Homo sapiens: one gene and its partners. The protein of the gene in region 2 interacts with the protein of the main gene of each other region in a pairwise test. Each region holds a gene or a part of one and is shown on either strand. Other genes may lie near its edges.

Evidence for each region.
Region 1: the proteins of MB21D2 (region 2) and ARHGEF5 interact in binary tests that used the Homo sapiens proteins (3 or more experiments, as listed by UniProt).
Region 3: the proteins of MB21D2 (region 2) and EVI5 interact in binary tests that used the Homo sapiens proteins (3 or more experiments, as listed by UniProt).

The regions. Positions count from the first base shown.
Region 1 is NC_000007.14:144,350,495-144,359,120, reverse strand, and holds the start of ARHGEF5 (rho guanine nucleotide exchange factor 5), read right to left. Parts: upstream 3,720-8,626; 5' UTR 3,620-3,719; exon of another isoform or gene 3,403-3,619; intron 1-3,402. UniProt on the Homo sapiens protein: Guanine nucleotide exchange factor which activates Rho GTPases. Strongly activates RHOA. Also strongly activates RHOB, weakly activates RHOC and RHOG and shows no effect on RHOD, RHOV, RHOQ or RAC1.
Region 2 is NC_000003.12:192,907,282-192,915,316, reverse strand, and holds part of MB21D2 (nucleotidyltransferase MB21D2), read left to right. Parts: intron 1-8,035. UniProt on the Homo sapiens protein: Probable nucleotidyltransferase that catalyzes the formation of cyclic dinucleotide second messenger in response to some unknown stimulus.
Region 3 is NC_000001.11:92,508,701-92,516,735, reverse strand, and holds part of EVI5 (ecotropic viral integration site 5 protein homolog), read left to right. Parts: intron 1-1,691; coding exon of another isoform or gene 1,692-1,790; intron 1,791-2,765; coding exon 2,766-3,080; 3' UTR 3,081-8,035. UniProt on the Homo sapiens protein: Functions as a regulator of cell cycle progression by stabilizing the FBXO5 protein and promoting cyclin-A accumulation during interphase. May play a role in cytokinesis.

The DNA of each region.
Region 1 (8,626 bases), on a different chromosome or scaffold from region 2:
CCGGAAGGACCTTCAGAGACACACAGAAACTGCTCAATTTACAGATGAAGAAACTAAAGGTCAAAGACCCTAGACCCTTGCTCAAATCTCCTAAGCAAATGGTATGGGCAAACCTGAAGCAAAGTCGCTTGACTTAAGTCTCCTGTAAGCACTTAGAGGTCCTACTGAAAGAAAGCTGGCAGGCCATCAGTCCAGAGAAGACCCCAGAATTCTATGGACCCAATGCTGCACCTGACCGTGCACCTTTCTTGTCTGGTCCAGGCTTAAACTGAAAACTCACCTGCTCAGAATACTGTCCTGCTTAGCCACTGTGTGTGTACACACACACACACACACACACACACACACACACACACACACACTGAGCCATCCTTACAAACTCTTGCAATAGAGCCTGACATAACCAAACAGGCAGGTCCCTAGCACACTGCAGAGTAGTATGTGACAAGATTCTGGCCATCCCAGAGACAGAGATACCATCTATATGGGGCAAAGAGATATGTCTGACATAATTGTACACAGGCAGAAGGACTTTTATGTCCTTTTCCAGTTAACTGACACCATATGCGATTGGCTCCCTATGTCTAGCCCTTAAGTACAAAATACTATAATCCCTATGGGTGATTCTGTGATGTGGCCCTGTTCTCTCAACCACACATCGAATAATATACTTGCTTACTTTAAGACACTTTCTGAAACTTGGCCTAAGGAGACCATGGGACTAAACCTGTAGTCTCTCCTCACTTACATCTGCATGGTTCAGGCCCTCTCCTCCATATACACCATCACGTCTTCAAAACAAGTAGCCTCTAAATAAAAGTGTGTTTCTGCCATATCTAGGGTATATCTATAAATACCATGTGCTACCTGGACATTTTCTGTTCCAATCTAGTGGCACAGTGCATGCCTGCCTCTGCAAGCCCATTGACACCGTTTCTAACTGTCTTTTTTCATTTGGAAATATCAGTGGTCACCTGCTCAGCCACCAGTTACCGCAAAGGGAGAACATACCCCACGTTCCCTATACTTGATCCTATCTCAGTGATCCCGTTGCAATCAGGCATGACAAAGCTAAAATGTGACAAAGTGAAAGGAAATCTGTAAATCATGGTCTTACTCACGTAAAGGCATCAGGAGAGAGTTTTTTGCAATGCTCATTACGTTAGAGTGCAAACATCCTCATCTCCTTCTCCACTGAGGGTGAATAATCACTGTTTATCTGTGTACAGGCAAAGCCAGGGCATGGGATTATGGGGATACGGCCTTGCTTCAGACCACAGACATTCTGCATCCACATAACCTCACCCACGTGTGACTTCTTGAGAGGCAAAGCTTCAAGTCATCCCTTTAACATAATGTGTGACAGAGCTCACTATCTTCCCTAGAGCCCCCCCCAACACCTTAGCTCTTGTCTATTTCTAGTCACTAGAAACAACACTGTATTTCAAGGATACAACCCCTCCCCAATCAAACTGCCAAATCTTTGAACTGAGACTCAGTGCCATATATATATTTTTGAGGACCATGCTTCCTGGATTTTCTAGCAAGGTTGATTTCAAATATTCTGACTTACAAATCACTAAAATAATATTGAGGTTAAAATAAGATCACCACATAGATATATAACTTTATTCACTGTTTGACATCACTGCCCTCAATACTACAAAGATATCAAAACAGGGGTAGCTTTCTGGACCACTGACTACTACAGTGTGTGTTCTATCCATTGCAGGAAAGTCCCACCATGCCAGTGAAAGCTGTAATACACATTTATCTATTCTCTAATGTCTGAAAATGTCACACCAACTGCCTTATAGACCAGATAGTTTATATAAGAACATTATTAGTGTCAATGCTGACTTACACTCTACAATCTCATCTGTGGTCCTGGTGGCATACACACAGATAACATTAGTGTGAGTGACGTGTTTGTGTATTAACACAGACCTTGAGGGTGACTTTGTTCCAGTCTACCTTGCAGGCACTATAAGTGATCGGCTCCTGCTTACTCCACAGACACTGTGAGTGACCCAGCCCCTGTCTACACTAGAGCTGTTGGTCACCTGTTTGTCTACACCACTGACACTTGAGTAATGCTGCTCCCGTTGAACCCAAGACCCTACGAGTGACTCCATTCCTGTCCATACCACATAGCGACTGACCTCTCCAGACACCACAAATGACGTATTCCTGTCTATCCCACAGACACCACGTGTAACGTGGCCACGGAACCTCAGACAGACCGCGTTAAGGGCACTGATACACTCTCAGGACCTCTAATATATGAACACTCTTCTCTCTATTGAGAATCACTATATTCTGTTGATGAGAGGGATTCCTTTGCACTCCTCCTGATTTCTCTCTCCTCCCCACTAGGACCATGACATACATTCCTCCTGCATATCAGTCTCACCCAGAACTGACACGCCCTCATCCCATCTTCCCAGCTCCCCAGGACTCCTTCACTAGCCATGGCTTCACTTTTAGGCCCACAGATTGGTTAACAAATGACACCCATTTTGCTAAGGCCTATGCCAGGAACTTCTTCATGCTCCAAATGTGGATAAAACAAGACGTCTGAGACAGAGGCCACATCAAGAGCTTTTTAGCTGGAGCTGGGACCTCTGGATTAGGCCCAAGATGCAAGGCCAGACAGTGGAGTGCAGTAGGGGAGCAAGCTAGGGAGGAAGCTCGAAAGGAAAACCACCCTCTCTCATCTGTTTGACACACCCTTCTCTCTCAACCAGACAAGAGTCCTGGCCAGAGTTCACTTCTAGGTAGACAGGAGGGCAAATCTGTCTTTGGAACCCAAGATCCAGGAAGGGAAGAAAGGGACTGAGATCTGGAAATGACGTAGTATCACAACTGGCTCTCCTCCGGTAGTCTTGCCGGAAGGCAACTGCAAAAGATGCTCAGGGGTTCTAGAGCTCTGCGTCCGCATTCTAGCACCCCAACGCCTACCTCAGCCCCCAACTCTAAATAACTTCTTTCCACCTTGCTAAGAATGCAACGTTGTGATTCACATCAAGCTTTAGGAGGCTCCCCATATGTAGGGAACTGGGGTGAGGGGCAGGGCAGGATTCACTGTTCCAGGTTACGGAGCTTTGGTTAACACGGAGAGAAGCTACACATAGACTCACACAGTATGCAAATACCTATGGAGATACATAAGGAAAGGCCCCGGCCTGGTTAAGGAAAAGGAGCCGATAAAACCTCTCCAGGTAAGGAACAGCCTAGAAAGGGAATCTCAGTTATTCCTTCTGATATGGCTTAGCTTTCCCCAGGGCGCCTACTTTGAAGAAAGAGCCCTGATTATTGGCCCGGGGAACGTCTGGGGGCAGGGTGCCCATTTCCTAGGCGGGACCCGACCGGAAGCAAACTTGTAGGCAACAACATTTCCTCTAGTTCCTCTCCTCTTCCCCACCAGGGTCCTCAGCCACACACCCCGAGCCCTGCCTGCGGGCCCAGCCCCCCCATTTCCGGAGCCTGCGCCCCGGACCCAGCGGGGGCTGATCCCTGGGAAAGGCCTGGCTTCCTCTTCCTTCCTGTCCCTGCCCCACCTCCGCCGGGCTCCACAGCCGCCGGGAGCCCAGGGCCGAGACGGGAGGAGGGCACCCACCTGGTCGGTGTCACATGCTGCTTCGGCCCCAGCGTCCCCTCCAGGTCCCGGCGCCGGCCGCAGTCCCCAGAGCCGTCCCCAGCGCAGGCCCGGCCGCCCCACCCGCGGCCCGCCCCTGGCCGCCCGACGGGAGGGAGGGATCGGGTTCTCCTAGGAAGTTTCAGGTGAGGAAACAGGGACACACCTTCCCGGAGGAGGGGCAGGGCCCCTCCGCGCGCGAGCCCCATTGGTGTGAAAGAAGCTCCCGCGTCAGAGCTGGGAAGTGCCGGGCCGGCGGGGAGGGGAGCCCGGGCGCACGGGCCAGGCCGCGGGCTGTCCCAGGGAGCCCCGAGGGCGCGGTGCGCGGGCGCAGGTCGGGCGCAGGCGGGGTGACCCGGGGAAGGGGCGCGCACAGAGACAGAGGGAGCCAGCCGGGCCCCACGGTGTCCTCGGACGCCTCCGAAATCTCCCTGCGTGTTTGTTTCTTCGGAGCTTCACCGGAGCCTGACTCTGGAACCGGCCTGTCTGCCTGCTGCAGTCTGTATGTGTTTGTCTTTTGCCTTGGCCGTGCCTCTGGAAGTCTGACATCCGTGGTTGTACATGTGTCTTTATCTTCAGGCCTCATTGGTTTTTGGTTTGTTCGTTGTTGTTGTTGTTGTTGTTGATGTTGTTGTTGTTGTTGTTGTTGTTGTTGTTTCTGAGACGGAGTCTCGCCCTGTTGCCCAGGCTGGAGTGCAATGGCGCGATCTCGGCTCACTGCAACCTCCGTCTCCGGGTTCAAGAGATTCTCCTGCCTCAGCCTCCCGAGTAGCTGGGATTACAGGTCCGCGCCACCATGCCCGGCTAATTTTTGTATTTTTTAGTAGAGGCCGGGTTTCGCCATGTTGGCCAGGCTGGTCTGGAAACTCCTGACCTCAGGTGATGCACCCGCCTCGGCCTCCCAAAGTGCTGGGATTACAGGCGTGAGCCACCGCGCCCGGCCAAGGCCTCAGTGTTGATTTCTCTTCCGTGATGTCTCCTCCTATAGAATAAAGAGTGTCTCCTCCATCTCCTCCTCCGCCCCCTTCTTCGTTTCTCTCTCTCTCTCCCTCCCTCCTCCCCCCTCCCTGTCCCTCTCCCTGCCTCTTCCTCTCCCCTCTTCCTTCTCCTACTTAGGGCCTAGAAGTGTGCCTCTCTGAAAGGACATGCCCGTGTCCTTCTGTATTCCCGAGTTTATTTTAGAATGAGTGCGTATCTCAGGGTGTATGTTCCTTCTAGGGCCTGTGTGTGTGTGTGTGTGTGTGTGTGTGTGTGTGTATTTAAATCTCTAAGCCCATGTTTGTGTGTTTTCTTATGCCTGTATTTTTTTTTTTATTCTTTCAGGGAAACGTTGTGTTCTGTTAGTCTTGGAGGCCAAGGCTGAGTGGGTTTATCTCTGTGCCCCTCCAGTGACTTCAAAGAATGCCAAAAGTCTCTCGAGTGTGCCTGTGTGCACACACAGACACACACAAAGTAGGAATCCTTTACCTGGGGGACAGAGATTTCTGTTATTTTTGGTTGAATCTGACCACTCCCCAAAGCCATTCACTACTCCAGGGGTTTCCATGGTGACATAAGTCAAGTGAAATATTAATGGACTCCTTGCCTATTTTGCTCTTAGGAATGCCATGGTCTACAGCCCAAACAGCTTGGCTAGACCATTTCCAGATCACTGTGCCCATTGGCTGTTGCCAATGATCCTGGTTGAACGTGTTCACTAGTTATTTTGAGGTGGCTGTAGAATAGAATGTAATTAAGGAAGTATAGCCTCTTCTGTAATAGAGTCCTGAACAGCTTTATGTTAAAAAAGTGTGCTACTTCTGCCATGTTACTCTGAAGGATTAAGTCTTAAACAGTTCAGCAGTTTTCAGCCTACTCTAAGCTGCCATGGAGTGTATGGGAAACTATAGGAAAAATTGGGATTAAGACTCAAAAATCTGGATTAAGAAGGGCAGGCCTTGCATGTGTCCTAGGCTCAGCAAAAGGGTAAGAACTGGGAGTACAGAAAGGCAAAAAGTTCAAACTGGGACTGGCTCTACTTCTAGGCTGGAATACAAAACTCATTCCCAGGTATGAGAGGGTCCTTGATTTATACCGAGTGAGCAAAGTGAGTAAACTTCTGATCTAGGGCAGAAGCTGTTGACCTCTGGGTCGGGTGCGGTGACTCACAACTGTAATCCCAGCACATTGGGAGGCCTTGGCCGGTGGATCACCTGAGTTCAGGAATTTGAGGCCAGCCTGGCCAAACATGGCGAAACCCCTTCTCTACTGAAAATACAAAAATTAGCTGGGCTTGGTGGTGGGCACGTATTCCCAGCTACTTGGGAGGCTGAGGCAGGAGAATTGCTTGAACCCAGGAGGCAGAGGCTGCAGTGAGCTGAGATTGCACCACTGCACTCCAGCCTGGGTGACAGAGTGAGACTCTGTCTAAAAAATACAAAAAAAAAAAAAATTGTTGACCTCTGGCATATTTCATGCTGCCTACTGGGGGTGGGCAATGGGGTCAGAGGTACCAGAACTGCCTCCTGAACCAGCCTGGCTATTCTTTCTGCTTCCCTCCAGCTTCAGTTGGTTCTCCTTGATTACAGCGCTCTCTCTCTCTCTCTCTCTCTCTCTCTCTCTTTTCTCATCAACTCGACCTCCTCTTGTTCTGCCAGCTCTGACTTGTCAGCATATTTTTTTTTGAAGTCACAACCCTGGATTCTTGTGCGCTTGTCCAGAGAGTTAGCACACAAGGCTTTTCCTGACTTTTCAACTAGTAGGAAAGTTACAACCGACCATTTAGGGAGTTTGCTCTTCCCATCAAGACTGTTCCTGTCTGCAGGGTGTATTTGCATGTGGAGGTCACTCTAGCTCTCCCAGGTATTCTTCCTTTCACTTTGCAGACTATGGTTCTCAGCATTTTATTATTTTTTTTCTTTTTCATTTCTTACTGCGTGGTCTTGGTGACTGGGTTTCTTAATCAAGCCTGTCATCCCATCCTGAGATTTTGATATTTTATTTGGGCCTATATTTCCTCTATAAAGGCCTAGAGAGGAGAGAGAATGATGCCATGGAAAGAGAATGAGATTTAGATTCAGACAGGGGTAAATTTGAATCCTGCATTCCATTTACTTAATGTGAAATCTTGGGCATATTCACCTTCCTGTGCTTTCTCTGAATCTTCCTACGTTTCATTTCCCTAATGTCTTAATTGGGGATAATAATATGTAATGATACCTACGTCACTGGATTGTTGTGGTGATTCAATACTGTAATATATAGAAATCACCTTAGTATAAGTACCTGATGTGTAAAGGTGGCCAAGATGGGTTAGTTTCCTTTCCTAGCAGTGCCTGTCAGTGATGCATGTGGAATGAATATGTTTATAAGAACAAAGTGATAGGGGCTGGGAACAGTAAATAGATTCAAAATAAAGCTATTTTAAAATGAAAGCCCTATTAGACGAGGCTGAATAAAAATAGCTTCTAGAACTTGGGACTACTTTAATTGACAATAATGCCTTTAAGATCAAGTTATGGGGCTTGGGGAGAGGCAGGGAACAATCTTGTATAGTTCTAGGTATCAGGACTAAAGGAATGACAATGACCTTTTTTGAAGCAGGAACTCATCAGCATTATCCCTAGGGCTGTCATTGTCCTGACTAGATACTGTCATGGTGCCACCATCCCACATGACTGGCTGCATTGTTCCCACGTGGTGAACTCTCTCTGACTCTCAGCTGGTCCAGTGCTAGTTCTTGGAACACTCCTAAGGCCTTTCTGCCTCTGCTTTTTGCCTGATCCTGTGACCCAACATTGAACCTTTCGAACTGATTTTGAACTCAGTTCTTCTTTTTTTTGAGATGGAGTCTCGCTCTGTCGCCAGGCTGGAGTGCAATGGCGTGATCTCGGCTCATGGCTACCTCTGCCTCCTGGGTTCAAGCGTTTCTCCTGCCTCAGCCTCCTGAGTAGCTGGGATGACAGGCATGTGCTGCCACACCCGGCTAATTTTTGTATGTTTAGTAGAGATGGGGTTTCACCATATTGGTCAGGCTGGTCTCGAACTCCTGACCTCATGATCTGCCTGCCTCGGCCTCCCAAAGTGCTGGGATTATAGGCATGAGCCACCGTTCCTGGCCCCAGTTCTTCTGTTAATGGGGCTGACCGTGGTCTCTCCATTCATCTCTGTTGAAGCCAGGCTGGCTTGACCACTGTGGTTCTTAGCTATCTTCTTCTATTCTGTTTTTTTGTTTTATTTTATTTTATTTTATTTTTCAGAGATGGAGTCTTGCTCTGTCCAGCCCAGGCTGGAGTGCAGTGGCACGATCTAGGCTCACTGCAACCTCTGCCTCCTAGGTTCAAGTGATTCTCTTGCCTCAGCCTCCCCAGTAGCTGGGATTACAGGTGCGCACCACCAAGCCTGGCTAATTTTGTGTTTTTAGTAGAGATGGGGTTTCACTATGTTGGCCAGGCTCATCTCAAACTATTGACCCCAAGTGATTGGGATTACAGGCGTGAGCCACTGCGCCCAGCCTATCCTCTTCTATTCTGATGAGCATGGTTTTATTTTCTATCCTTGGCTTCCCCTTATTTATTTTCTCAACCTTTACACATTGATTGGCATAGGCCTAAATTTAATGCCATTCAAGGCATACATACTAATTGCCTCATTCATTTTTTCTTCTATTCATTTACTCAGTATGCATTCTTAGAAACCAGATATACAAAGACAAGATCTCTGCTTTCAAGAAGCTCTCAATCTGATTGAGGAGAGAAACAGGTAGCAAATAATGGCAGCAGAGCATGGTAAGTGTTATGTTGAGATGGACACAAAGTACAATGGAAGCATAAAGGAGAGAGTAGGTGGCACTCCTTGGGGAATCAGAGAAGCCTGAATGGATAAGGTGGATTATATATATTTTTTTCTTTTTGAGATAGGGTCTCACTGTGTCACCTAGGCTGGAGTGTAGTGGCGCAATCATGGCTCACTGTAGCCTCAAACTCCTGGGTTTAGGTGATCCTCCCACCT
Region 2 (8,035 bases):
ATTTTTTTTATACACTTTGTTTCACTTGCCATAGCTTTGGTTCTTTGATGACTATGCAAATGAAGTCTCTTAATGACCCCTAGCTTGTTAAGGTGTTACTTGGGTGGTACCAGGCCCTCATTTCAGGGCGGGGGGGTGGAGGGTGGCCAGTCCTCTTGGCTTTGTTCTGTATCTGAGCTGCACCTGGGGATTGTTAGCAGCTTACAGATATTATCCCCTCACACAGAATGAAGTGGCCAACCACGAATTGGGTGCAAGCCTCTTTAGTGGAGCTGAGAAAAATACTGCCTCATGTTTCAGGCAGTTGGCAGGGGTGAGGCATGTTACTCTCTTTTTGTGTAAGATTGTTAGCCAAGTCTGAAGCCCCTCCAGCTTCACAGATCCTTTTCATTTTGTCTAGTTTGGAGGAATTTTACACTGAAGAGCAAGGAGGTGGTAGACAGCTGTCATAATCAATGACCTGTCAACACCAAGACACTCCACTGTCTTATCAAAGTAGGGTTCTGCACAGGCTGTGGGGTTGATCTGAGCTTGCTGGTGGTCACTGTGGTCTCTGGGGTCTGTCCTGATGCTCTCTGTTTGTACAGAGATTCTGATTTTTTTTTGGAGGCAGGTGTTAGCTGCAATTGTCTAGATTCACTTCTTATTCCTCTGTACCTTGGTCTTTTAGGAGAATGATTGGTGTTATTATCTAGTTAATATTTGAGAGCCCAGACTGTGCGAAAGGCTGGCAGTGCATAATAAACACCATTTATCAAAATTCAGGGAAATTGCCAGAGTTCATTAATGTTTTAATAATATTTGGTATTAGCATAATGTCTCTGCCAGCTCTTTTGTTATCTTCATTCCCTGGTGAGGTTCGATAGAGACTGGTTTGTGTCCCCATTGAACAGATGCAGAAAAGGGGGTATGCAGATGCTGGAGAAGGCAGGAAAGAAACAAGCCGTCACCTAACCTACAGACCAAGTGGTCGGTACCATGGCATGATTTTTACGGTAGTTAATCATTTACTAATCATCTTCTCAGGGCCAGGAACTTCACATAGACTTTTGAGGAGGTATTGCTTTCCCATTACATAGATGAAGATATTGAAATTTAGTGGGGTGAAGAAAGTGGATATCCAGGGTCACAAAGCTAATAGATGGTAGAGATGCTACTGAAACTCAGGTCAGCCTTACTCTAAAACATGTTCCTCTTCTCCTACTTGAGACTATTAAGAATAGATGCATAAAATCCAGAGGAAAGGCTTTGTTTTAAAAAATCACTTCTTTCAGGATTTTGTTTCGATTTTAGCTATAAGTTTTAGCGTAATATAAGTAGATTTCTGGAACAGTCTGAGTTCAAGTATTCTATAATAAGATCTCCTATTTGAATTTTTGATTGAGAAAATCATAGTAATTATAATAAAATGTTAAAATCTATAGTTTCATTCCCAGTCTGCCTCTTGTTGGCTTTGTGGTCTTAGTATTTTCTCTCTCTTTTTTTGAGACAGGATCTTGCTCCGTTGCCCAGCCTGGAGTGCAATAGTATGATCATGGCTCACCGCAGCCTCAAAGTCCTAGGCGTAAGCTATCTTCCTGTCTCAGCCTCCCTAGTGGCTAGGACTAGAGATGTGTACCACCGTGCCCAGCTAATTTTTTATTTTTTAAAATTTTTGTGTAGATGGAGTCTCACTATGTTGCCCAGGCTGGTCTCAAAATCCTGGCCTCAAGTGATCCTTCTGGCTTGGCCTCCCAAAGTGCTGGTATTACAGGCATGAGCCACCATGCCTGGCCAGTTTTTTCATTTATTAAACATGGATAACAGTAAGCATTGTTTTTCAGAACTGTTATGTCAGAATGTGAAATTACTTTGCTAACTAAAAAAGAATATATACGTGAGTTTATTATTTAAATAAATGTTTGTTTATTTATTTATTTGAGACAGGGTCTCGCTCTGTCACCTAGGCTAGAGTGCAGTGGTACAGTCTCAGCTCACTGCAACCTCTACTTCCTGGGCTCCAAGTGATCCTCCCACCCCAGCCTCCCAAGTAGCTAGGAGTGCAGGCGTGTAACACCACGCCTGGCTAGTTTTTTGTATTTTTGGTAGAGACAGGGTTTCGCCATGTTGCCCAGGCTGGTCTCACACCCCTGAGTTCAAGCAATCCTCCTGCTTTGACCTCCCAGAGTGCTGGGATAAAAATATACTTTCTTAGAAGATCCAGTGAACTTAAATTGGAATTATTTCTGCAGCTTGACATCTGAAAGAACTATGCAGTACAATTAGGGTAGCCCAGGAGGATTTTGGCTCATACCATGTGCTGACCATTGTGCTAGCTACTTTGCCTAAGTCCATTAGCTCATGTAATCTTTTTTCCACAACTTTGTAAGCATAAGTATCATGCCTATTTTGGAAGTGAAATAGGTGTTGTTACCCTTTTTAAAGATGAAATGGTGAGGCTCAAAGAAAGAAGTCAAGAACTTAGGCCAAGATCATTCAGAGTTGGAGACTGAATCCAGTTATTCCTGACTCAGAAGCTCATGTTCCTTTTACTGTAGTAGCAATCAGTTTCCATCACTTTTGGGTGAGACATACTATACTCAGTAGCCTGCCTAGTCTGTAGGAGCAAAGATAATTTCTTTTTTTCTTTTTTCTTTTTTTTTTGAGATACAGTTTTGCCCTTGTTGCCCAGGCTGGAGTGCAGTGGCATGATCTTGGCTCACTGCAACCTCTGCCTCCTGGGTTCAAGTGATTCTCCTGCCTCAGCCTCCCGAGTAGCTGGGATTACAGGCGCCCGCTACCACACCTGGCCAATTTTTGTATTTTTAGTAGAGATGGGGTTTCACCATGTTGTTGGCCAAGGCTGGTCTAGAACTCCTGACCTCAGGTGATCCACCCACCTCGGCCTCCCAAAGTGCTGGGATTACAGGCGTAAGCCACCATGCCCCGCCTGAGATAATTTCTTTTTGTCTTCCTGTCTCTGTCCCTCTTTCTCTCCCTCTGTTTTTTTCACGCATTTGACAAATACTTAATGAATGTAATAGTGTTTGCCAATCAGCGTGCAGGGTTCTGAAGATAAAATGGTGAACAAAAACTTTGAGAAATTCATAAGGGCCTTCAGGGACCCCTCCCCTGTTTCCTTTGCCCACCAACTCTAGCAGGATATTTTGCTGGCTGTTTCTCCTTTCAGGCCAATAAGTGCCATGTGGCCATTTCAAAGATGTAAATGCTTGGTGTGGTGCTCCTGGACCTACCATATTTTTAGGCACTTTCTACATCTCCAGAGTGGGTAATTTTGAAGCCCTACCTTTCCAGTGTTTGATTGCTACTTTTCTGTTAATGAATTCCCCCAGCAGGATTTACCATGGAAATTTATGGTGCGTTGGTGTTTTATGGGCCTCCATGTGCTTGGAAAGTTCCCGAGAGTTGTATTCACTATGTGCTGCATCTGTAGAGTGCACAGGATCATCTCGGAAGTTTGTTCTATCTCTGAGAACATTATGTATCCAGGGCAGGGGATCTCTCCAAACATTCATTTTTGTGCTAGTTTGGATTGGTTTCAATTCCCCCTCCATGGTTCTGGGCAGTGGCTGCCCTTCGTCCTTGAGAGAAGAGGCCTAGAACTGTCGACAGTCCTGGGTCTTCCTGTCATTCCTTGTCATGCCACTCATTGGATAATACATTGCTCACAGTTAGGCTGAGCCCCTTTTTAATTCACAGAAATATTAGATTCTAACAATTCAAAATCTCTGGTCCCATTCAGACCTATTGAATCCGAATTCCCTAGAGATCCCCCAACAAGCTGCTCAGCATGTCAACATCCTGTCCTGTGTTAGGCTTGATGTTCTGCATTCTCTGTTCTAGGCACAGTGAGCATGATCCCAGTTGACTTTTGAGACTAGAACCAAGCTGCTGAGCCTAATGAGCAGATAATGTCTGTCTGCTCCTGGAAAGTAATAGTGGAGTTCTTCCACCTGGGACAGAGACAAAAAGGCATAGTGAGTGAGACAAGGGTGTTTACTATGTCACAGGTTTTAATAGGACTTTACTGTATCATTTAATCATCACCATTACACTTTGAGGTTAAAAAAAAAAAACTGTGGTGAACCCTAGAATTAGAAAAATATAGGAATTCATCCAAGTTTACCAGCAAGTGAGTGGCATAGGTGGGACTTAACCTGGGTCAGGATGAATACAAAACCCTGGCTTTTAACAAGGACAATATTCTGCACTCAGGACCAAGAGACCCAGATTTTACCTCTGAATCTCCAGTTATTAACATTTGCTGTGTGACGTTGGGCAAGTCACTCAGACTTTAAGCCTCAGTTTCTAAATATATAAGTTGGGCTTAATCATTATATGTACTTCATGTGTTCAGGTGCATTCAATTCTGAATCTGAAAGTTTTTATATAGTAAGAGAAAAGGGAATTTCTGAGTTCTTGTACCAGCTCTGTTTTGTACTATGTGGTATGTGTTTTACCCTAAGTCTCCTAACCTATGTTGGGCCTAATTCTGCCCGTTTTCCAATGATAGAAAATGCAAAGGAAAAAGTAAAATCACTCCTAAACTTGAATCACCATTAATATTTTGATGCACATTTCTTCTAAACATCTGTGTTATACATATGCTTATACCCAGACATATGTGTACATTTACATAACAGGGATGGTATGGGATCCATGCTCTTTTATTAGGAGTAAATTTATCAATATGCTGTCCTCTACATTTTAAAGAGGAGCTATAAGTTGAAACTTGTAGAATGATGTTTTCCTAGCTTCTTTCATTCATCTCTTTTTATTCCAAAGAAGATGCATTTCTAGAACTTAGAGCACATTCTGTTATTTATGTATATATGTATGAATGACAGGTCTCACTCTGTTGCCCAGGCTGGAGTGCAATGATGCCATCACGGCTCACTGTAGCCTTGACCTCTTGGGCTCAAGCGATCCTCCTACCTCAGCATCCCAAGTACCTGGGACCACAGGAGAGCACAGCCATGCCTAGTTAATTTTTAAATTTTTTTTTTTTTTTTTTTTTTGTAGAGATGGTGGTCTTGTTGCCCAGGCTGGTCTTGAACTCTTGGGCTCAAGTGATTCTCCCACCTTGGCCTCCCAAAGTGTTGGGATTACAGGCATGAGCTACCACGCCCCACCTCTATTCTATTATTTAATAATTGGGAGTAATGAATTCTCACATTGGTGACCTCCGAGGATTTTACCTACCTTATTTGCCATCTTCTGAGGATTTTACCTACCTTTCCATGCCGCCTCCTGTCTCTGCATGTTCTACATTGTCATGTAACATACACCCCAATTTCTCACTTTCTTTCTTTGCTTAGGCTCTTAGGCTCTTTTCTCTCTCTCTCTCTCTTTCTTTTTTTTTTTTTTTTTTTTTTTTTTTGAGACAGAGTCTTGCTCTGTCACTCAGGCTGGAGAGCAGTGGCCGATCTCAATCTTGGCTCACTGCAACCTCCGCTTCCCGGGTTCCAGTGATTCTCCTGCCTCAGCCTCTGGAGTAGCTGGGATTACAGGTGCGTGCCACCATGCCTAGCTAATTTTTTGTATTTTTAGTAGAGATGGGGTTTCGCCATGTTGGCCAGGCTGGTCTTGAACTCCTGACCTCGAGTGATGCACCCACCTCGGCCTTCCAAAGTGCTGGGATTACAGGCGTGAGCCACCGTGTCTGGCCGAGGCTCTTCATCAGAGTTCCCTAACCTGGGTCCATGGAAACAGCATGGAACCTGTGAACTTGAGTGGGGAAAAAAGGACATCTTTATTTGTATTAACCTCTAACTTAAATATAGCATTTTCTTTCATTATAAATATAGATGGGAAACCATAGTGTTATTAGTGGTTCGTATGTTTTTGTTGCCAATAGAAATCCCAGGCATTTTTATTTCACATTACAGTTGTTGCAGATATCTCAAAAAATGTTTACTGCTGCTTTGAAATTATGGTGGATATTAGACTTGCTGCTAGATTTTATTATTTAAGGCACTAATAATCACATAGGGTACTCTATCACAAATTTACTTTAAAAAGGCATTTATTATTATTTTTTTATTTTTTATTTTTTTTTTTTGAGACAGAGTCTCGCTCTGTCACCCAGGCTGGAGTGCAGTGGTGCGATCTCGGCTCACTGCAAGCTCCGCCTCCCGGGTTCACACCATTCTCCTGCCTCAGCCTCCCGAGTAGCTGGGACTACAGGCGCCCGCCACCATGCTTGGCTAATTTTTTTGTATTTTTAGTAGAGACTGGGTTTCACTGTGTTGGCCAGGATGGTCTCGATCTCCCGACCTCGTGATCTGCCTGCCTTGGCCTCCCAAAGTGCTGGGATTACAGGCGTGAGCCACCGTGCCCGGCCGCATTTTGTATTTTAATACTGATTTTCTTGGAAATCCTGTGTGATGTTATCATATTCACTTAAATATGCTATTCTCTGCAGGGATCTATAGGCTTCTACAGTCTGTCGAGAGGATCCATGTCACAGAAACAATTAAATGTCCCAGGTTCTACAGATGACCTTCTGACACCTTATGTCCGCTTTATTTTTTTCTCCCAGCTCAAATGCCACTTGACTCATGAAGCCTTCCTATATGTCTTTGAGAAGAAGAAAATTTGGCCCGGCGTGGTGGCTCATGCCTGTAATCCCAGCACTTTGGGAGGCCGAGGAGGGCGGATCACGAGGTCAGGAGATCGAGACCATCCTGGCCAACACGGTGAAACCTCGTCTCTACTAAAAAAAAAATACGAAACATTAGCTGGGCGTGGTGGTGGGCGTCTGTCATCCCAGCTGCTGTAGTCTCAGCTACTTGGGAGGCTGAGGCAGGAGAATGGCGTGAACCCAGGAGGCGGAGCTTGCAGTGAGCCTAGATCGCGTCACTGTACTCCAGCCTGGGCGACAGAGGGAGACTCTGTCTCAAAAAAAAAAAAAAAAAGAAGAAAATTTACCTTTCCTGTGTTTCCTCCTAATACCTGGTCCCTTTTGTGGCCCTTAGCCTGTTCTTTCCCATGCTTTAAAGAATACCTGGCTTATTTATCTTTGCAGCACCCAGGGGGTCATGCACATAGTAGGTGCTCACTAAGTGTGATGTGACTTGAGTCACTCTTTAAAAGAGCTCTTCCCAGTGAAGCTTTTTATTGCAGTCTCTGAGAAATTAGCACTTTCTAACCTTGTCTCTTTATGATTTTTAAAAATCCATTGAGTTATACTTTATCATTTTCTGGAGTCCAGAAAATTTTGATCTTATCTCCTTATGTGGCAGAGGGATGTAGGGCAAGTTTTTCTACATTCCTTAAGACCTATCCTAGGGCAATATAAGAAATGTCCATAGTGATTGCTGTAGCTTGTTGACTGGGAACAGCAAACTGCAACTCATGACTCATAGGGATGTTCCCTTCCTTGTGGACCCCGGTGTTTCTTCACAGGCATGTGAGGGTACTTCCGGACCTCTGGCATGCCCATACTCAGGGCTTTTCAGAATGCACAGTGGGCACACGTTATCTTTCTCATTATGGCGTTTAGTGTGCTTATCAGTCATCCTCCAAGTGCCTCCACTTGGATGGTTAATCTGGAACGCAAGTCGTAGGAATTCTTTATTATTAGAAACTACTGTTATTTGCGATCAATACTAATTTATCTTTGCACAATGCTTTATAGATGACAATAAATATTCACATTTGGTATGGTATTATCCTTAGGTCAGGCCTTTGAGAAAGGTTGTATAGGAAGTATTAATCCCCATTTCTAGATGGGAGTACTGAGACTCTGGGAGGTGATGTGACTGATTCGTAGGTCACAGAATCGGTTGGAGATCAAGACTCCACCCAGCTATTGGGTGTCTTCTGCCGCAGTCAGTATATCACCTGCAAAGAGCTTGTAGACTTTTCTACTCTTAGCCATCTTTCTTGGGTTGAGGGGGTTGATTCTATAGTCGCAGACAAGGGAGGGATGCGAGGTTTCATTCCCCTTTGGACTTCTCTGCTCTTCACCTGAGCCAAGGGTATATAGGGGGTGAATCTGACTGAGAGTGGAATGAGTAAATACAAGCCCTAT
Region 3 (8,035 bases), on a different chromosome or scaffold from region 2:
GGCTTTCTTCTAGCCAAACCCCTTTCCACAGGATGAGGACTCCCAGAAGACATGTCTACCTGAAGTTCATGCAGCCCCTTCTAGAACATATTCTGGGTAGTCAGTACCCTGGAATTCCTTCCCCAAATGCCCACTTCCAGACCTAGTACAGGACTCCTCCCTCATCAGATCCAGTGTGCACACACCTAAGTCTAAGGGACAGATAACCAAGGGATAGCTTCAGTTTTACCACATAGTCGCTTACCTTCACCATTTTTTCTCTCCACCAATAAATTCCTTTACGTTTGCTATTCCATATTAACAGCTCTCAATGAGATTCCTTTGATGTTGAGGAAATGACCCTTCAACCTATAGTTAATTTTCTATAATTACATCTGATGATGAGGCTGCAGTGTTTTAATTGCAATAAATTTTGTTAGAGCAAAGGAAAGCTGCAGCTTTCCAAACAGTTGGGAAGTTGTGGTTCTTCTGCCATACTCCTCCTTTATAACAGCCAGGAAGAAGGAAGACACATGTTCCATATGATTTCTTCAAAAAGGTCTGGGGGAAAAAGAGAAAGGAAGAGATTAACTGACTTAATTTAACACTTGGAGCTATAAATTGTGTGTTGCAATATTGCGATAGGATGTTGCATCAGAACGTGGCAGTTGTAACAATGCAGTGGGTATCATAACCTTGAGGAGGCCTTTGTGGTGCTATATGCCCTTTTCCTAAAGATTCAACTCCAAGTATAGATCCCTCTGTTCTGCCAAGGAGAATGGTATTATTTAAATTACGTTGTACCTCACTATAAATTTGTCCACTTGGTCTAGGGCACAGGAATATAGTTGAAGGTCTGCTTGGGCCAGACATCATTGTTCTGAGTCCCTGCATCCCTGCTGATTCTTGTTGTCATATACAAGCAGGGAAGTGCTGAGGTTTCTTCACTTCTTCCTGGAAGTCTTTCAGGAAAGCTGGGAGGTATTATGGTGAGGCTGTAATGTCTTTATTCTCAGGACCGTTAGTTTTGAAAGTGTATGTAATATTTCCTGAATATTTCACATTGCCTTTATCTAAAGAATTGAAAGATTGTGACTAGGAGTTTGTCCCTGAGAAACAAGGATGAGGGTAGGAGACGTGGAGCATATTTTAGCAAGATTCTTAATAGTCAGAGTAGATATTTGGTAGCTAATTCTTGTTTTTGGTTTTGGTTTTTTACTCTTCCACTTTATTGTAGGAGAAAATTCATGGTGCATGAGAGAAATGAAATAAGTGACAGAATGTCAAAATCAAACTTTAAAACATAAACTCTTGAGGGCAGAGCTGATGACTTAATTGTATGTGAGTAGAACTGGTACTGTCATGGTTGTGGATTTGGGAGTTTGAGGAAACTTGAGCAAAGAAGTGGCAGATGATGAAAATAAATCAGTTTTAATTCTGATAAAACTGGTTTTGGAAAATGTGGTTTAGATTTAAATGTGGCACAATTTTTTCAATACTAAACTCTAGAATTAGTCAGACTTGCCCACCCAGTAACAGGTAGCTTTTGACCTCCTTAAGCCTCCTTATGTGAGGGTCTTGTACTATAAAACTCCAGGGATTGAGGACTAGAGCCTCATTCTAAAAGATGGGAAGAAAGGGAAAAGAGATGAGTGAGGCATACCATTCCTCTCTCCTCCTCCCCACTAAGAGAAGCCTCACCTTCTCCCCAGGGGGAGTTGGGGAGAGAAGGCAGAAATGTTATACCGGACTGGCACTCCCCCCATGCAGAAGGAAACCTCATGAGTGGGAAGCAGCATTCCTCTCCCACAGTAAGTGACGGTGATATGCTGGCCTTTGGGCTATTATAACAGGATGGAGACTCTTAGCAAAGTTTTAATGATTTATAAATCATTTTCATCATTTACAGAACTATGGAGACATTCTCTCAAGATAGTGTGTGTGATAGTATGGTTTTTAAGTTCATACCTTCTAGAAATACCAGCAAAATATTTACAGATAAACTGATAGGATGTCTGGGGTTTACCTCAAAATTATCCAGGAACAAGAGGTGTGTAATGTAAAAAGATTGTCCATGATGGGTGTTACTTGTTGAAATTAGGTGATGGGTACATGGAGTCCATTATATTATCTCTAGTATAATGAAGATTTAGTTTGAATCTAAACTTTGCTACTAGCTATATATGTCCTTAGCAAGTTACTCTTCCTGAGTCTCCATTTCCTAATCTGTAGAATGAGAAAAGTAAATACTAAAATCTATCACATAGGACGGTTGTTATTATTCAATTAAAGTAAGTTACAGGCCAGGTGTGGTGGCTCACACCTGTAATCCCAACACTTTGGGAGACTGAGGCAGGCAGATTGCTTGAGCCCAGGAGTTTGAGACCAGCCTGGGCAACATGGTGAAACCCCGTGTCTACAAAAAATACAAAAAAATTAGCCAGGCATGGTGACACACGCCTGTAGTCCCAGCTACTCAGGAGGCTGAGGTGGGAGAATCGCTTAAGCCTGGGAGGCGGAGGTTGCAGTGAGCCGAGATCGCACCACTGCACTCCAGCCTGGGTGACAAAGTGAGACTGAGACCTGTCTCAAAAAAAATAAAATAAAAATAATTATGAGCCCATTATATATAACACATAGAAGGCACTCAAAAATTAGTAACTATGATTATACCTGTAAATAGAAAAATAATAAGGCATCTTCTTCCTTAAACATGGAATGTTTGCTTTTTGGCGTGTGTGTGTTTCCCCCATTTGACTGTATTAACTTGGATTTTGTTTTAACAGCTCAGGTGCCTAAAAGGCCAGAGGGGCTTCTCAGGCCAACCTCCTTTTGATGGAATCCACATTGTCAACCATTTAATAGGAGATGATGAATCATTCCATTCCTCCGATGAAGATTTTATAGATAATTCCTTACAGGAAACTGGTGTTGGTTTTCCTTTGCACGGAAAATCTGGTTCGATGTCTTTGGACCCCGCAGTGGCAGATGGTAGTGAGAGCGAAACAGAAGACAGTGTGCTGGAGACCAGAGAGAGCAACCAAGTGGTTCAAAAGGAGCGGCCCCCGAGAAGAAGAGAGTCGTATTCAACCACTGTCTGACCATCACTGTGACCTAGACTATGGATTTATTTAAGGGATCAGTTATCATATGATTAGGGCTTTTTGGAAATAATTTGTTTCATATGTACATATATATATATATATATATATATATATATATATATATATATATATATATATATATTTTACAGTCTTATCTGCCTTTTTATCTTTGCCAAATCTTTACCACTGATTTACCATTGCCATAAAGTAGACTGGTATATGGTTAATGTGTAAAACAAGGTTCTAACAGTATTACTGAATATTAATGTTTCTTGTTTAGAAAATGCAACTATATCTATATGTGGGAACCATTCTGAAGTTCAAAACTATGGAAAATTGAATTTTCTTCAGACAAAACTGCTCTTGTGCAATATTTTATGCTCAGTGAGCAAATTGTGTATTTATGTTTATCAATTTGTTCTCAAGGTGGCTGTCTACAGACATTTGACCAAGACATACATCTGATTTACCTTGTGTTTTTTTTTTTATTGTTGTTTTTTTTTTTAAGACAGAGATTCAGTCTGTCACCCAGGCTGGAGTGCTGTGGTGTGATCTTAGCTCACTGCAACCTCCGCCTCCCAGGTTCAAGCAATTTTCCTGCCTCAGCCTCCCGAGTACCTGGGACTATATGTGCGCACCACCACGCCTGGCTAATTTTTTGTATTTTTAGTAGAGATGGGGTTTCACCATGTTGGCTGGGCTGGTCTCGAACTCCTAACCTCAAGTGATCCACCCGCCTCAGCCTCCCAAAGTGCTGGGATTACAGGTGTGAGCCACTGCACCCAGCCTACCTTGTCTGTTTGTGTCTGGGAGGTTTTTTTTTTCTATTTTTATTTTTTCATGAAAATTATTGGTGGGCCACTGAAAGTCCCCACACACAAAGCCTTTATTCTATATAATTTTATAAACACAAATTCATGATTATCTGTTTTGAGAGTTTTAAGTTTTGTTTTAATGTTTAACTTTTATGTGCATATGATGCTTCCATGTGTTGGTTACTAGAGTAGTAGGTTAACTACAGACATACTGTTTTGTTTGTACATATTTATAAATCTGTACCACCTAACATTGAACATCATTTTATATGAAGAACATACATGTTGCAAAATGACTGCTTTCAGCATCTAACAGGACTTCTGTAAATAATAGGTTAAAAGTTAAAAATAAAACACTAATGTTTTAAGAGCTTTAGTATTTTGCTTAGCATTCAATACTAGCAGATTCATAACTGATGCCTGTTCAAAAACACTGTTGGTGGAATCTTTTATTTCATGTGTATGTAACTACTAAATTTTTCATGACTGAAGAGGTTATAGCACATATTAGTTAGTGCTAATATTCTACTGAATATAATTTAAGCAATGGGCTAAGGTCCAAGAAACATAGCAATTATATCTACAAATAATCTATTAACATGATCTTCAGAATCTCTAGTTTTTGTTCTATAGATAAAGCCATAAGAATCCTTTCCTACCAGTTTTTCCTATATCATTTAGATATTATTTCCTAGAAAACAGGATGCCTGTCACTGATAAGTTAGAGAAAACACCCAAATTATACTTGCACTATGGAAAGACGACATGAATATGTTGACTGGGTACTTTCTACTCTCATTTTTGTTAGCCTATGAAAAAAAAAACATTTTGTTAACCTATGGAAAAAGCCTTGGAAGAGAAAAGTAGAATTCAGTATGTATGGAGGCACAGTTTTGCACAGTATGTTGCATGCGGCAAAAAAAAAAATATGAAATAGAGTAGAAGAGATAAAAGTAGTTTTCTGTCAAAAACTAGGAGTTAAGCCTTCAGGTACGTTGTGGACTAGGCTTTCCAGCAAGGTTTTTGTAGCTATTTGCTTGCCTGAGAAATGAAATTGAAAACATACCCCTGCGTGTCTGTCCTTAACACCAGGCTAAATTCTGGTGGTTAAATAACTTATCTGTGGTTACAAGCTAGTAAGTAGCAGAGCCAAGATTTTTTTTAATATAGAGACAGGTGTCTCACTGTGTTGTCCAGGCTGGTCTTGAACTCCTGGCCTCAAGTGGTCCTCCTGCCTCAGCCTCCCAAAGTGTGGGGATTACAGGTGCGAGCTACTGCTCCCAGCAAGAGCCAAGATTTTAACCTAGATCTCCCTAACACCAAAGCTTTTGAAAGGGTTCAGCTGAAGAATTTCTCAATTCTCTGTTTTGTTTTGTTTTTATTTTTGTTTTTTGAGATGAAGTCTCACTGCACTCAGGCTGGAGTGCAGTGGTACGATCTTGGCTCACTGCAACCTCCACCTCCCGGGTTCAAGCGATTCTCCTGCCTCAGCTCCCAAGTAGCTGGGACTACAGGTGCACGCCACCACAACTGGCTAATTTTTGTATTTTTAGTAGAGATGGGGTTTCGCTATGTTGGCCAGGCTGATCTCAAACTTCTGACCTCAGGTGATCCACCCACTTTGACCTCCCAAAGTGCTGGGATTACTAGACGTAAGCCACCACACCTGGCAATTCCCTGCTTTTTTGACAACATAATTTAAATGAATTTGATTTAAATGTTTCCTGAATATATATACAGATAGATAGATGAGTATCAACACTTACAAGCTCTACACAGTCTGTGAGTGTAGATACTACTTACTCGTAGGATTGTCTTGTGCTTTGGGGATTTTTGTTCGGAGTTCTATACTATCAGCCCAGAAAGCTATCAATGTCCAAGTGAAGTGAGATGATGCATGGCCACATTATTGCTTTGACCCTCACATCAAGAAATCTGAATGATCTGGACCAGGGGTCAGCAAAGTGCAGCCTACAAGCTATTGCAGTCAGCTGCCAGTTTTTACTTTTTTAAATAGTTGGGAAAAAAATTCCAAAGACTGATATTTTGTGTCACATGAAAATTATATGAAATTCAAATTGCAGTGTCCATAAGTAAAGTTTTATTGGGGCACACCCATGCTCACCCTTTTAAATATTGTGTATGGCCGCTTTGTGCTACAGTAGCAGAGTTGAGTCATTGCAAGGGAGACCATATGGCCCAGGTAGCCTAAAATATTTATCTGATCCTTTACAGAAAAAGTTTGCTAACCCTTGATAACAGATACTCTAAAATGCAGGTTTTTCTTCTTCAATTTAGCTCAGTGGTAGGTCAAATTGTTTGCTTTTGCTATTAAGCTTATGATTTGGAAACGTAAAATTTCATGGTGGATATTATAATCAGAACTATTCAAAAGGGAAAACATGCCAGCCATTTTATATGATGAAGTCTCTTATTCCATAGAAAACTGTAGAAAGATATCTGTATCTTTGGAGAAGGAGAAAGAAAGGAAAGAACTCCAGAATCCCATCACTGTTCTTTAAAGCATGCATCACAGACCTTTAAGAGTATGCTTTATTGAGTAAAGGTTATAGTTTGACTTTAAGATAAGAAATTTTCTAGAATCATGTTTGAATTCTAAACGTTGATATTCTTAAGTACCATTTCTGATTAGGAATTAGGTGTTAAAAGAATCATGGTAAGGAAACCTTAATCCGTTGAAACTCTTGTAATTTGGACAACAAAAAACTAGAAATAACACTCTTTTCTTTGAAGATCTGATTCAAATACACCTTAGAAGAGTTTAAAATCTCCCAGGCCTTTAGGATGCAATAGGATATTATGCCTTGGTTTGACTCCTTTTCATTCAAATTAATGTAAGTATGTTGTTCAAGACTTTGAAGCATTGAACAATGTTCTCGATGAATTTTATTTAATTACTGACATTTTGTGATATTTGAATGTTATTAAGTTAAACACTTAGAGTTGAGTATATTCAGGGGAGAAAAGTGAATGAAATGACTCATAATAAGAAAGCTTGCTCCCTTGGGACAGTTACCTTCCTGGTGTCATTGCCATCCTGGGTTGACAAGCTGAGAGTAGAGGATACAAGTGATGTGAATAAAATGGAAATTGCATTGAGTTAATGAAACAGACACTTTTAGATCAAGAAAACACTTCAACAGCCTTTTTAGAAATTGGCACACTCCTATAGTCCCACCTACTCAAGAGGCTGAGGCAGGAGGATCACTAGAGTACAGGAGTTTGGGGCTGTAGTGTGTAATGATCACACCTGTGAAAGAATAACCACTGCACTCCAACCTGGGCAACATGGCAAGACCCTGTCTCTTTAAAAAAAAAAAAAATCCTGGGAAAAGAAGTCAAAGATGTAATTTTACACAATTTCTGCCCCCACCGTCTTTTTTGTTTGTTTGTTTGTTTGTTTGTTTTTTGGCTAGATACTAGGTATTCAGTGTTTGCTGAGATGACAGGTTTCTACTAATCAGCCAGTTATTTGGGAAGGAGAAAAACTTTTTCTCAATTCTGAACATGATGCAGCTTGTTAACTCTCCAGATAGTGCCTTTGATTGAAAATAAGGTCTACACCTTTTTAAGTATATTATTTCTGACATCGTAAGAAATAATTTAGTTCCTTATTCTCATTTATCTTTTATATAATGTACTGTAATATTCAGGTTTAAAGTAAAATAAGTATATGAATTATATTTTGGTAAAACTGTTTCATGACCAGCTTGATTAATGTATATTAACATACCAGACATTGACAGCGAACATTTCATGAAATCAGTTATTTACTTACCAAAACAATGAGTTTTAGCTTGAAAGTTACTGCTGCTCTATTATTAACAAAACTAAGTTTTAAAAATTAATTTTAATTCTACTGAAGTTTAATTTCTGGTTAAAGGTATAGTGGATGCTATTTATGATCCAAGTTTTTACATCACATCCATTGATCTGCCTATCCCTTCTTTTTACTCCAAAGAGGAGATGATAGAATAATACATTCAGTATACTACCAAGAAGCAAAGTTATAATGTGTTTCATTTTGCTATTGGAATTTTTTATTGTAACATTGTATGATAACCTGAAATGTTTACTTGTGCCTTTTCTTTAAACAATTAAAGTTTTCCATTTTAT